Regions from separate parts of the Homo sapiens genome. Here region 1 is linked to region 2. Evidence: fine-mapped expression QTL. A gene starts in region 2. The other region holds a variant in brackets. All regions are shown on one strand. Distances are from middle to middle. Region 1 overlaps FAM169A (family with sequence similarity 169 member A). Region 2 holds the start of FAM169A (family with sequence similarity 169 member A).

Region 1 (5,380 bases), 77 kb after region 2:
GAAAAGGGAAATAAAATGAAGATATTTTCTTAGTACAAATGTATACATGCACAAACATGTTCTTAACAAAATAAGGAAGAAATACTCATGACAATTACAGTCCTGGTTTCTGCAGCTGGTCACGTGGTCGAAGCTGGAGTTGATGACTACCTTCTTCTGCTACTCATTCTGTATTCCCTTTGCCTTCAGCAAGCACCTTAGTGGGTCATGTTTTTTTTTCCTAGTGGAGTAACCCAAACCTTCATTCCTGAAGGGTCTGGGCCATTTGTAGTCTTGCCTGGATTGGGCTGTTGTAGTTTCCCATTGACCTTAATCACAGGGCATCGTAATACTAAGAGACACCCCAAGGGATCTCCTATATTCCATGCATACTCTTCCTTACCTCCATTGTGGAGTAGTAGACTGATTTCATCTTGATAGTCTGGGTCAGTCACCCCAGCCAACACTGTAACTCCCTCCTTAGCCTGTTGACTTAAAGGTAGGAGGAGCCCAAAGTGTCCAAGTGGCAATCTTAACTTCCAGTTTAATGGAATCATTGTTGTGTCTCCTGGTGGCAGCGTTCGTCTCTCTGGAACTAATACCACTAGGCCAGCAGAACGTAATGTCATGGGGACAGGAAGCAAAAATGTTTCTAGTGGATCACTAGGGGTGATGGTGAGTGATGCCATTTCCACTTTTACCCCTGGATTCCTGGACCTGTGAATCCTGGCTATGGGAGAAACAGTACCATATACTGGATGCTTATTCAGAGCATACCCAGCCTGCTGGAGACCTTTGCCGCAGCCCTGCTAAGTATTATCACCTAGTTGGCGTTGTAATTGTGACTTCAAAAGGACATTCCACCATTCTGTCAATCCAGCTGCTTCAAGATGATGGGGAACATGGTAAGAATAGTGAATTCCATGAGCATGAGCCCACTGCCGCACTGCTTTTGCCGTAAAGTGAGTGCCTTGTTCAGAGGCAATGCTGTGTGGAGTAGCATGATGATGGATAAGGCCTTCCGCGAGTCCACGGGTGGTAGTCTTGGCAGAAGCATTGCGTGCAGGAGAGGCAAACTCATATCCAGAGTAGGTGTCTATTCCAGTGAGGACAAACCTCTGCTCTTTCCATGATAGAAGAGGTCCAGTGTAATCAACCTGCCACCAATTAGCTGTCTGATCACCCCAAGGACTGGTGTCATATTAAGGGCTTAGTGTTGGTCTGTGCTGCTGGCAAGTTGGGCACTCAGCAGTGGCCTTAGCCAGGTCAGCCTTGGTGAGTGGAAGTCCATGTTGCTGAGCCCATGCGTAACCACCATCCCTGTCACCATGGCCACTTTGTTCATGGACCCATTGGGTGATGACAGGGGCGGCTGGGTAAGGAGGCTGTGTGGTGTCCACAGAACAAGTCATCCTATCCACTCGATTATTAAAATCCTCCTCTGCTCAGGTCACCCTTTGGTAGAGTACTCACAGGGGATACAAATAACTTCATTTTTTCACCACTCAGAGAGGTCCATCCACATACCTCTTCCCCAAATTTGTCACCAGTTTTCCAATCATGCTTCTTTCAAGTCCCTGACCGTCATCCAAACCATTGGCTGCAGTCCATGAATCAGTATTATCACACATCTGTCTATTTCTACTTCCTTGGAACGTGCACAACCAGGTGCACTGCTCGAAGTTCTGCCCACTGGGAAGATTTTCCTTCACCAGTGTCCTTCAGGAAAGGGGCTATAGGGCTGTAGCTGTCCACTTTTGGGTGGTGCCTGCATATCATGCAGAACCATCTTTGAACCAGTCCCTAGTCTTCTCTTCCTCTGTCAGCTGATTATAGGGAACTCCCCATAAGGCCATCGGTGCAGGCTAGGGAAAAGAAGGCCAGGGTGGCAGCAGTGGAGACCATGGGCGTTTGAGCCACTTCCTCATGTAACTTACTTGTGTCTTCAAGACCTGCTCAAGCCCGATCACATATATACCACTTCAATTTGATGATGGAATGCTGCAGTGCATGACCCACTTTATGACTAGATGGGTCAGAAAGCACCCAGTTCATGATAGGCAGTTCAGGTCACATGGTGACTTGATGACCCATAATCAAGCATTCGGTTTCTACCAAAGC[C/T]CAGTAACAGGCCAAGAACTGTTTCTCAAAAGGAGAGCAGTTATCTGCAGAAGATGGCAGGGCCTTGCTCCAAAATCTTAGAGGCCTCCACTGCGATTCACCTATGGGAGCCTGCCAAAGGCTCCAAACAGCACTTGTCTCTCTAAAGGAGAGTAGTTATCTGAAGAAGATGGCAGGGCCTTGCTCCAAAATCCTAGAGGCCTCCGCTGTGATTCACCTATGGGGGCCTGCCAAAGGCTTCTCACAGCATCCCTGCCTGCCACTGACACCTCAAGCACCATTAGATCTGCTGGATCATATGGCCCAAGTGGCAGAGCAGCTTGCACAGCAGCCTGGACCTGTCGCAGAGCCTTCTCCTGTTCTGGATCCCACTCAAAACTGGCAGCCTTTTGGGTCACTCGATAAATGGGCTGGAGTAACACAACCAAATGAGGAATTTGTTGCCTCCAAAATCCAAATAGGCCAACTTGTGCTGTGCCTCTTTCTTGGTTGTAGTAGGGGCCAAATGCAGCATCCTATCCTTTACCTTAGAAGGAATATCTCAACAGGCCCCACACCACTGGACCCCTAGAAACTTTACTGAGGTAGAAGGTCCCTGAATTGTAGTCGGATTTATTTCCCATCCTCTGGCATGCAAATGTCTCATCAATAAGTCCAGTGTGTTTGCTACTTCTTGCTCACTGGATCCAATCAGCATAATGTCATCAATGTTATGGGCCAGTGTGATAACTTGTGGAAGTGAAAAGCGATCAAGGTCTCTTTGAACAAGGTTATGACACAAATCTGGAGAGTTGATATACCCCTGAGGTAGGATAGTAAAGGTGTGTTGCTGGCCTTGCCAGCCGAACGCAAATTGCTTCTGGTGGGCCTTATGGACAGGAATGGAGAAAAAGGCATTTGGCAAATCATTGGCTGCATACCAGGTACCAGGAGATATGTTAATTTCCTCAAGCAATGAAACCACATCTGGTGCAGCAGCTGCAATTGGAGTCACCACTTGGTTAAGTTTATGATACTCCACTGTAATTCTCCAAGATCCGTCTTCTGCACAGACCAAATGAGAGAGTTGAACCGTGATGTGATGGGAATCACCACCCCTGCACCGTCCTTGATGGTGGCACTAATCTCTGCAGTGCCTCCAGGGATGCGATATTGTGTTTGATTGACTATTTTTCTTTCTTTTTTTTTTTTTTGAGATGGAGTTTCGCTGTTGTTGCCCAGGCTGGAGTGCAATGGCACGATCTTGGCTCACCGCAACCTCCACCTCGTAGGTTCAAGCGATTCTCCTGTCTCAGCCTCCCTAGTAGCTGGGATTACAGGCATGTGCCACCATGCCCGGCTAATTTTGTATTTTTAGTAGAGATGGGGTTTCTCCATGTTGGTCAGGCTGGTTTCGAACTCCCGACCTCAGGTGATACGCCCGCCTTGGCCTCCCAAAGTGCTGGGATTACAGGCATGAGCCACCGCCCCCGGCCTGATTGACTATTTTTCTAGGTAGAGGCAACTCTAATGGTTTCCATTTGGCCTGTCCCACCATAATAGCCCTCACCCCACCAGTCAGGGAGCCATTGTGGGGGCTCTGCCAGCTGTTAAGTATGTCTATGCCAATTAATGCATTCTGGCACTGGGGAAATGACCACAGGATGAGTCCGGGGACCCACTGGACCGACTGTAAGTCAGACCTGAGCTAAAACTCCATTAGATTACCTGATCTTCATAAGCCCCTACTTTAACTGGAGGACCACAGTGACGTTTTGGGTCCCCCGGAATCAACGTCAGCTCAGAGCCAGTGTCCAGTAGTCCCTGAAATGTCTGATCATTTCCCTTTCCCCAGTGCACAGTTACCCTGGTAAAAGGCCAGAGGTCTCCTTGGGGAAGGATGGGAGAAAGACTCACAGCATAAATTGTCTCTACTGTAGTGGGGTCCTTCCTCAAGGGGCTTCATTCAAGGTGTTCTGGGTCTATAAAGTGGCTCAAGTCTGGAAATTGAGGGGCTGTGATTCTCTCTTTTTTTTAATAATTCAGATTAGTCTTTTGTCCACTCGACCTGGAAGTTTTCCACTTATATGAATTAAGTAGGAATTCAGTAGGCTTCCTATCAATTCCACTTCTGGGAACACTGTGATTAATTAGCCAGTGCAAAAGCTGTACACAAGTCAGATTATTCTGATTGCTGCTTTGCCTCTGCTGCGGTCCATTATGGTAGCTCGCCCACCTTGCATTTGATGGTTGAGTGCTCCCACTTGGCCTCTGCCACGTCAGGATCCAATTATTCCCGTTCTAAATTTTGTAGTTGAGTGACTGCAGTTCCCACTGTTAGATTTGGCATACAGAGAAGAGTAATCATAGAGCTCTTTGAAGATTAACATGCTGCCCTCACAAATCTCTTTCGCAAAGCATCGGTCAAGGGTATATCTTCTGGACCCTCCCAGCTGGGATGAGTAGGTCTAAAGTGACTAATCCACTCCACCATCCCAATCTCTCTAAGCCTTTGGATCTCTTCCTCTACATTAAACCAAGGGAGATCAGCATTTCCAGCTCGCTCAGAGTGAGCCATCTTTTAATCCGTATTTCAGCTAACCAAGCAATCAAGCTATTAGAACCTTTTTAAATTCCCTGAGCAGCAACATTAAATGCAGAGTCCCTACTTAGTGGGCCCGAATCAATAAATTCAGCCTGATCGAACTCTATGTTCCTTCCACCATCATCCCACACCCTTAACATCCGTTCCCACACCTGTTCTCCAGATTCCTGCTTATATAAATTAGAAAACTCTAGCAGTTCTTTTCAAGTGTAGCACACCTCCTTGTGGGTCACACTCTGAACTTCACCTCTAGGAGGCCACCGGGACTTTAGTCCAGTTATAGGTCTAGAAGCAAACAGGGCTGGCTCTCTTCTCCTGAGGTGATGTTACCACTACTGGGGATGGCGAAGCTGTTTCTTCTGGCAAAAAGTCTCATCAGAGTTTACAAGCTCTGTGTCCCCAGCATCATCAGGGTCCTCCCACGTGTCCCCATTCCAAGTTGCAGGGTCCCATTCTTTTCCAATCAGGGCCCTCACTTTAAGAGTAGACACCTGGCGAGGCTGTGCATGCACCTTTCGTTGCAGGTCAGCCACTTACATGATAAGAGGTTGTGTCTGATTTTCCACAATTTCAGCTCTTTGTCTACAGGAGATAAGACTCTCACTTGGGGCTTTTAAAGCGAGTATCTGCTTTTGAAGCCAGGAGTTAGAATCCCTGAGTTCATCATTGTCTTTCATCACTTTGTCCAGTGAACTT
Region 2 (5,380 bases):
TCCTGTCTGGGAAAATACTAGATCTAAGAAATTATTTAAACTTGAAAGTATAGGACATTTAGTATGTTTTAGGGCTTCAAAAGCAAAATCTATCCATATGGTATAGGATTTTGTGCACATTTAAGGCAGTATGGAATTCTGGTTAAGGGAGTGTGCTCTTGAGCCAACATGCTAGGATTACTATCTGTGTGACCATGGGCAAATTGCTTAGTTTCTCTGTGTGCCTCAAGACTCCTCTTAGGTAAACTGGGGGTAACAGTGTATACCTGCAAGGATGGTAAGAGGATTAAGTGAATTAATTTCCATAAAGAAGTCTGTAGAGTGCCTGGCAATTTGTTAGCTGTCAAAAACATCAGTTATGATTTTAGCTATTAAGAATTCCTCTTCCCCAGTGCAACTAAAGAGCTCTTTTCTGGGTCATGTGTATTAGTAACCTCCAAAATCCAGGGTTGTGGCAAGCTTCTTTTACTTAAGATGGTTCCACTCCTCTTTAAACATAGAGGAAAAATACAATCAGAACGAACTCTTAACATGTTTCCTTTGCTAATAACAAAGTAATAATTAAAGCAAGCATTGCAAAAACAAAAACCAAAGCAATAATCCTTTTACTCTAAAAACGGTTCAGAAAAAAGCCTCAAAGCATATTTCAAAATATTGTGGTAACAATTTTCAGCATATACTAATCTGACAAAGGCTCATGTTTTTAGTTGTTGTTCTTTGCCCACTAAGATAAGCAAAATTTATCTCAGCCAAAGAGGGAAGTCAATGGTGATTTAAAAAGAAAAAACCAAAAACTCTCAAAAATAGTGTCATTTGCAAGTAGGGAAAAGAGAATCAGGCCTGGCGCAGTGGCTCACGCCTGTAATCCCAGCACTTTGGGAGGCCGAGGCGGGCGGATCGCTTGAGCTCAGAAGTTCAGGACCAGCCTGGGCAGCATGGCGAAACTCCGTCTCTACAAAAATTAGCGAGGTGCGTTGGTGTGCACCTCTGTCCCAGCTCTTCCGGAGGCTGACGCCGGAGAATCGCTTGAGCTTGGGAGGCAGAGGTTGCAGTGAGTCGAGATCGCGCCATTGCATTCCAGCCTGCCTAGGCTGTGGGAGTGAAACCCTGTCTCAAAAAAAAAAAAAAAAAAAAAAAAAAAAATTGGACCTTTTCTTTTATAGGTCTGGGTGAATGTAGTTCTGTCTCCTACCAGAATAGCCAGACATCTGGGAGCCAGGCCTCCCTGACCCAGGCACAAATACCCGCATACTTCTAAAACAATAGCTAAGAGTCAATCACACCCAGGCATTTCAAATATTATCAACAAGTTGTATTGGTTAGCTTTACACTAAGGCCTGAGGCTTCAACATCTGTAGGGCATAGTCTGGTAGCCAAAGCTTCCCCAAATGGCAATTGTTTGGGATTACCCTGGGGACTCCTACTTACACATAGCTCTAGAAATGTAAATACAAGTCATATAATTTCATTCATCACTGGCTATGGGTAGAACCCAACTACCCAAAATTCCTGCTCTATTAAATCTAATTCATTAAGTTTCATTAAAATGGTAAATGATGTGTAATAGTAAAGATTTTGGCTAATTAAATATTATACAAATGAAACAATAGATTCTTATATGGCAGAAAAGCTTTTTTTAAAAATCAGGGTCAAATATATCTATATCAACAAGCATTCTTTGAAGTATTTTTTGATCTTGCTAATTTTGCTAATCATTAGTAAATTCGTGAAAGTTGGTATTGTGATTGCTAAATATTTCCCAGGAATGAAAGAAGCAATTTTCAACTTTTCTGGATGAGCTGAACATAATACTACGGTTCTTGGATGATGAGTAAAAGAAAGTCTTGACATTAATACTTAGATACAATATTGTTTCTCAATACAGTTATTAAATATATTTAGACTACAATACGCATTACCTTAAAGACAATTTATCATGTTTTAAATGCTGGAGGGCTAATTTTCAGTAGGAGTGTGTAATTAGCAAAGGCGCCAGAGGCCATAAGACGGTAGAATAGAGCTGGGAGAGGCACGGGAGGAAAGCCGGATGGAACCCTGTTGTCTTTCTGGGTCAGGGTTATTCTGTACCGGTTAAACGGTGAAAGAGAAAAGGTCAGCGCAGGAATGTGGTATTTCCCTGACATCTCCAGATGAAAGTCCGGGCTCTAGGACTTCTGTAGACTGTGAAAGCAGCCCACGATTCTAACTTGCATGCACCTAAGTGGCAGTAGGTTTAGGATGAAAGTGGTGGGGCGGAGGCCGGCGGTCCTCGCCCGTGCCCTCTGCACCCCTGTCCCGAGGCCGGGATGGCCGCGCCCACTCTGGGTAAATTTCAGGAGGGCCTACGCGGGGCTGGAGAACTCCACCGGGCTATGCGAACAGAATCCTGCGAAGGTCGGCATTAAAGGAATACGCAAAATCAGCGTTGCAGCCCCCGCGGCTTAACCGCATCTATTTTTATATCTAAGCCAAGGTCACTCTTTAATACCAGGCCATTGCCCTGAGCTGGGCGTCGCGCTGCCGGGTGACGGCGGCCGGGGCGGAGAGAGGGGGCGCGGGTGGCGAGGCGGGGGCCGCGTGACGCCCCCGGGCTGGCCAAGCCCGCACCTGCCGGGCCGGCGCCTGAAAGCCGGGGCTGGAGGGAGGCAGGGCGGCGTCCCAGGCTCCGAGGAGGGGCCGCTCCGCGCTGGCGGGCGGGGGGATTCGCGGTGGGCGCGGGCGCGGAGCGGAAGCGAAGGCTGGAGGCGCTGCGGCGCTAGTGCGTCACGTCGTCGGAGGGCACGGTGGGCCGCGGCCGACCCGCGACGAGGAGCCGGGCGTCCGGGGCGAGCGGGAGGCAGCCGCACTCGCCCTGGCAGCCGCGAGCTGTGCGGCCTGGGACCGGCCGGAGGTCGCCAGCGAGCAGCCGCCGGCTCCATTCATTCGCGCGGCTCCGCCTCCTTTCCCGGGCTCTTCCAGCGGCTCCCGGGGCGCGTCTGAGGTGAGTGCGCTCCCTCTCCCCGGCGCGGACCGCTGGGTGAGGCCGAGACGGCCGCGCCGGGCCCCGCGCCCCCGCCAGCACCAGACCCGCGGACACCGAGCGGCGACGCGGGCCACCGGCTGTGGGCGGCCCCTGCGGGCTGGGCCTGGCGCAGACCAGTGCGGGCCGCCTGGACCCGGGGCTCGCGTCCAGCTGGCGGCGGTCTGCGGGGATCCCGTAGGGCGTGTGGCGCCCCCAGGTGCGCCGGCCTCCGCCTCGGCGCCACCATTTTGTGTGAGGGAATGCCCGTCTTCGCTCGCCTCCGCCGCGGGCCGGTTCGCAGCTGCGGCTTGCCGCCCCCTCCCCTCGCCCTCTCCCCACCTGGATGCTTGGCGTGCGAGCTGATTGCTTTGGCTTGGGGAGACGCGGACTCGGGGAGGTGTGGAACTTCAGCGTTTAGACTCGGTTCACCCGACCAGGTGGCCTCCAGAGATGCTCTGACCGCCTTCCTTTACCTGTAACTACTTTTGGAACAGATATTGTATGATTCTCCCTCCTCTGGAATGCTGGTCGTTGCAGTTTTGTCCTAATTGTGTTCTCAGCTCTCCATTATGCCATTTTTCAAGAGGCCTGTGCCTCAGGAGGTGAAGCCTTGAACCCTGGGTGGTTTATGGCTCGGGGGTCTGGATTACACTGACTCCCATGACTGTCCTTGGGGAGAAAGGATGAAGCATCTCACTGGCTTTTCAGCGTCTGGGAAGCGGCGTGGGTATCGTATCGGGTGGATTCGAAGATAACCACCTGATGCAGGTCACCTTCCCCCGCTGGGAGAGCCGTTCCTAACGTAAATTAAAACGTGTGTACGGGTTTTTGGGGGATTGGGACCGGAGGGACATATTTCTAAAAAATTTCCAGAAGGGAAAGTTTTCATTGTGATTCTCACAGAACTGTGACACAATTTGTCATTTTCAAGGTTCCTGAGAATTTGGGAATTCTTTTAATTCGTTGGCTTCTTGCGAATTACTACTTACGAACTGAGCAGATTATACCCAAGCCATTTATATTTTGTCATTGCATCACAGACAGGGATTACAATCGGGAGTGCTGGCTGTTGCATAATGCACACATTTGGGCCCTGGAGGGAATTCACCGAAGTGGATCTGGGTTTGGTGTGCCATGCGTTTTTATTTTTTACACAGGATGTACAGATGATCTTTGCAAACTACGTCCCTTATCGTGCTATAAAGTGTTTACAAGAGGAAAGATTTTTATTGACTAGTATGGACCAGACTAAAATTTTTAGTGTTTTAGTTTTGCTTGTTTTGGAGGAAAGGCAAGGAATGAGATGGTGAGAGGCACCTGGGAAAAGTCCGTTTATCCTAACACTTGAAGCGCAAACAAAGATAAAACATGATCGTCTTTCACAGAAATCTTGTAGCTATTATAGTGGACTTTTCTCTAAGTTAATGATGGGGATCTGTTTGGGGAACTTAGAAATAGCTTATGTGAGTAGCAACATTGACCTTCCACATGAGTGACCATAAATTAAGGTGTTTTACCTGTGGATTTTAGGTTCTAAAAGGCTTCAAATTAGTCTGACCTTTGAGATAGTATTCATGTCATTACAAGTGGTATTTATTTAATAAAGATGGGATATAGGCCGGGTGCGGTGGCTCACACCTGTTTTCCCAACACTTTGGGAGGCCAGAGCGGGTGGATCACGAGGTCAGGAGTTCAAGACCAGCCTGGCCAACATGGTGAAACCCCGTCTCTACTAAAAATACAAAATTAGCCGGGTGTGGTGGCACATGCCTGTAATCCCAGCTACTCGGGAGGCTGAGGCACAAGAATCACTTGAACCCAGGAGGCAGAGGTTGCGGTGAGCCGAGATCGTGCCCTTGCACTCCAGCCTGGGCAACAACAGTGAAACACCAAGATGGAATATATATCCAACAAAGGATTTTGATTTGGAGAAAACAAAATAATTAAGTGCTTTTGAGGTAAAGTTTCCATGCCATCCTCCTTATTAAATTAAACTATTTATTTTCTGTTTTGTTGAAGACTCTCCCACTAATTTTGTCTTCAAACAAGTGATTACATATTGTGTACCATCCCTGGCAAAAATATCGTGCTTCCCATTATAGATATGTTTATTCTATAGGGAGAATTATGGAGGCGAGAAGAACCTTGGACATTTAGAGATGAGTCTTGGTTTAGGGAATTTAAGTAAGCAAAGATTGCCTGCTAGAGATTGCAGGTGACCTGTCTGGACCTATCCTAGGCCTATGGGGAATGAGATTTTTTTTTTTCTAGCAAATAACAGTGCTGAGTCAAACACAACTCTTAAACTTTTACATTGATTCTGTTATTATACAAGTCAGAGAAGTTCACTGAATTGGTAAGATTGTATTGACTCCAGTT

The links. PIP is the estimated chance that this variant, and not a neighbour inherited with it, causes the effect.
Region 1: its variant is fine-mapped to the expression of FAM169A in whole blood (TOPMed, PIP above 0.99).

What each region holds. Positions count from the first base shown.
Region 1 is chr5:74,786,619-74,791,998 of GRCh38, reverse strand. All of the region lies in intron 11 of FAM169A (family with sequence similarity 169 member A), which reads left to right. Among named protein-coding and RNA genes, the nearest start is that of NSA2, 22 kb to the right of the region's middle. The variant C/T (reference allele first, on the strand shown) is at 2,101.
Region 2 is chr5:74,863,765-74,869,144 of GRCh38, reverse strand. It overlaps FAM169A (family with sequence similarity 169 member A), which reads left to right and starts at 2,758. Exons shown (of 13, transcript NM_001376049.1): 1 at 2,758-2,980. It overlaps FAM169A-AS1 (FAM169A antisense RNA 1), which reads right to left and starts at 3,252. Exons shown (of 1, transcript NR_134288.1): 1 at 1,870-3,252. RefSeq lists silencers at 2,822-3,071, 3,142-3,311.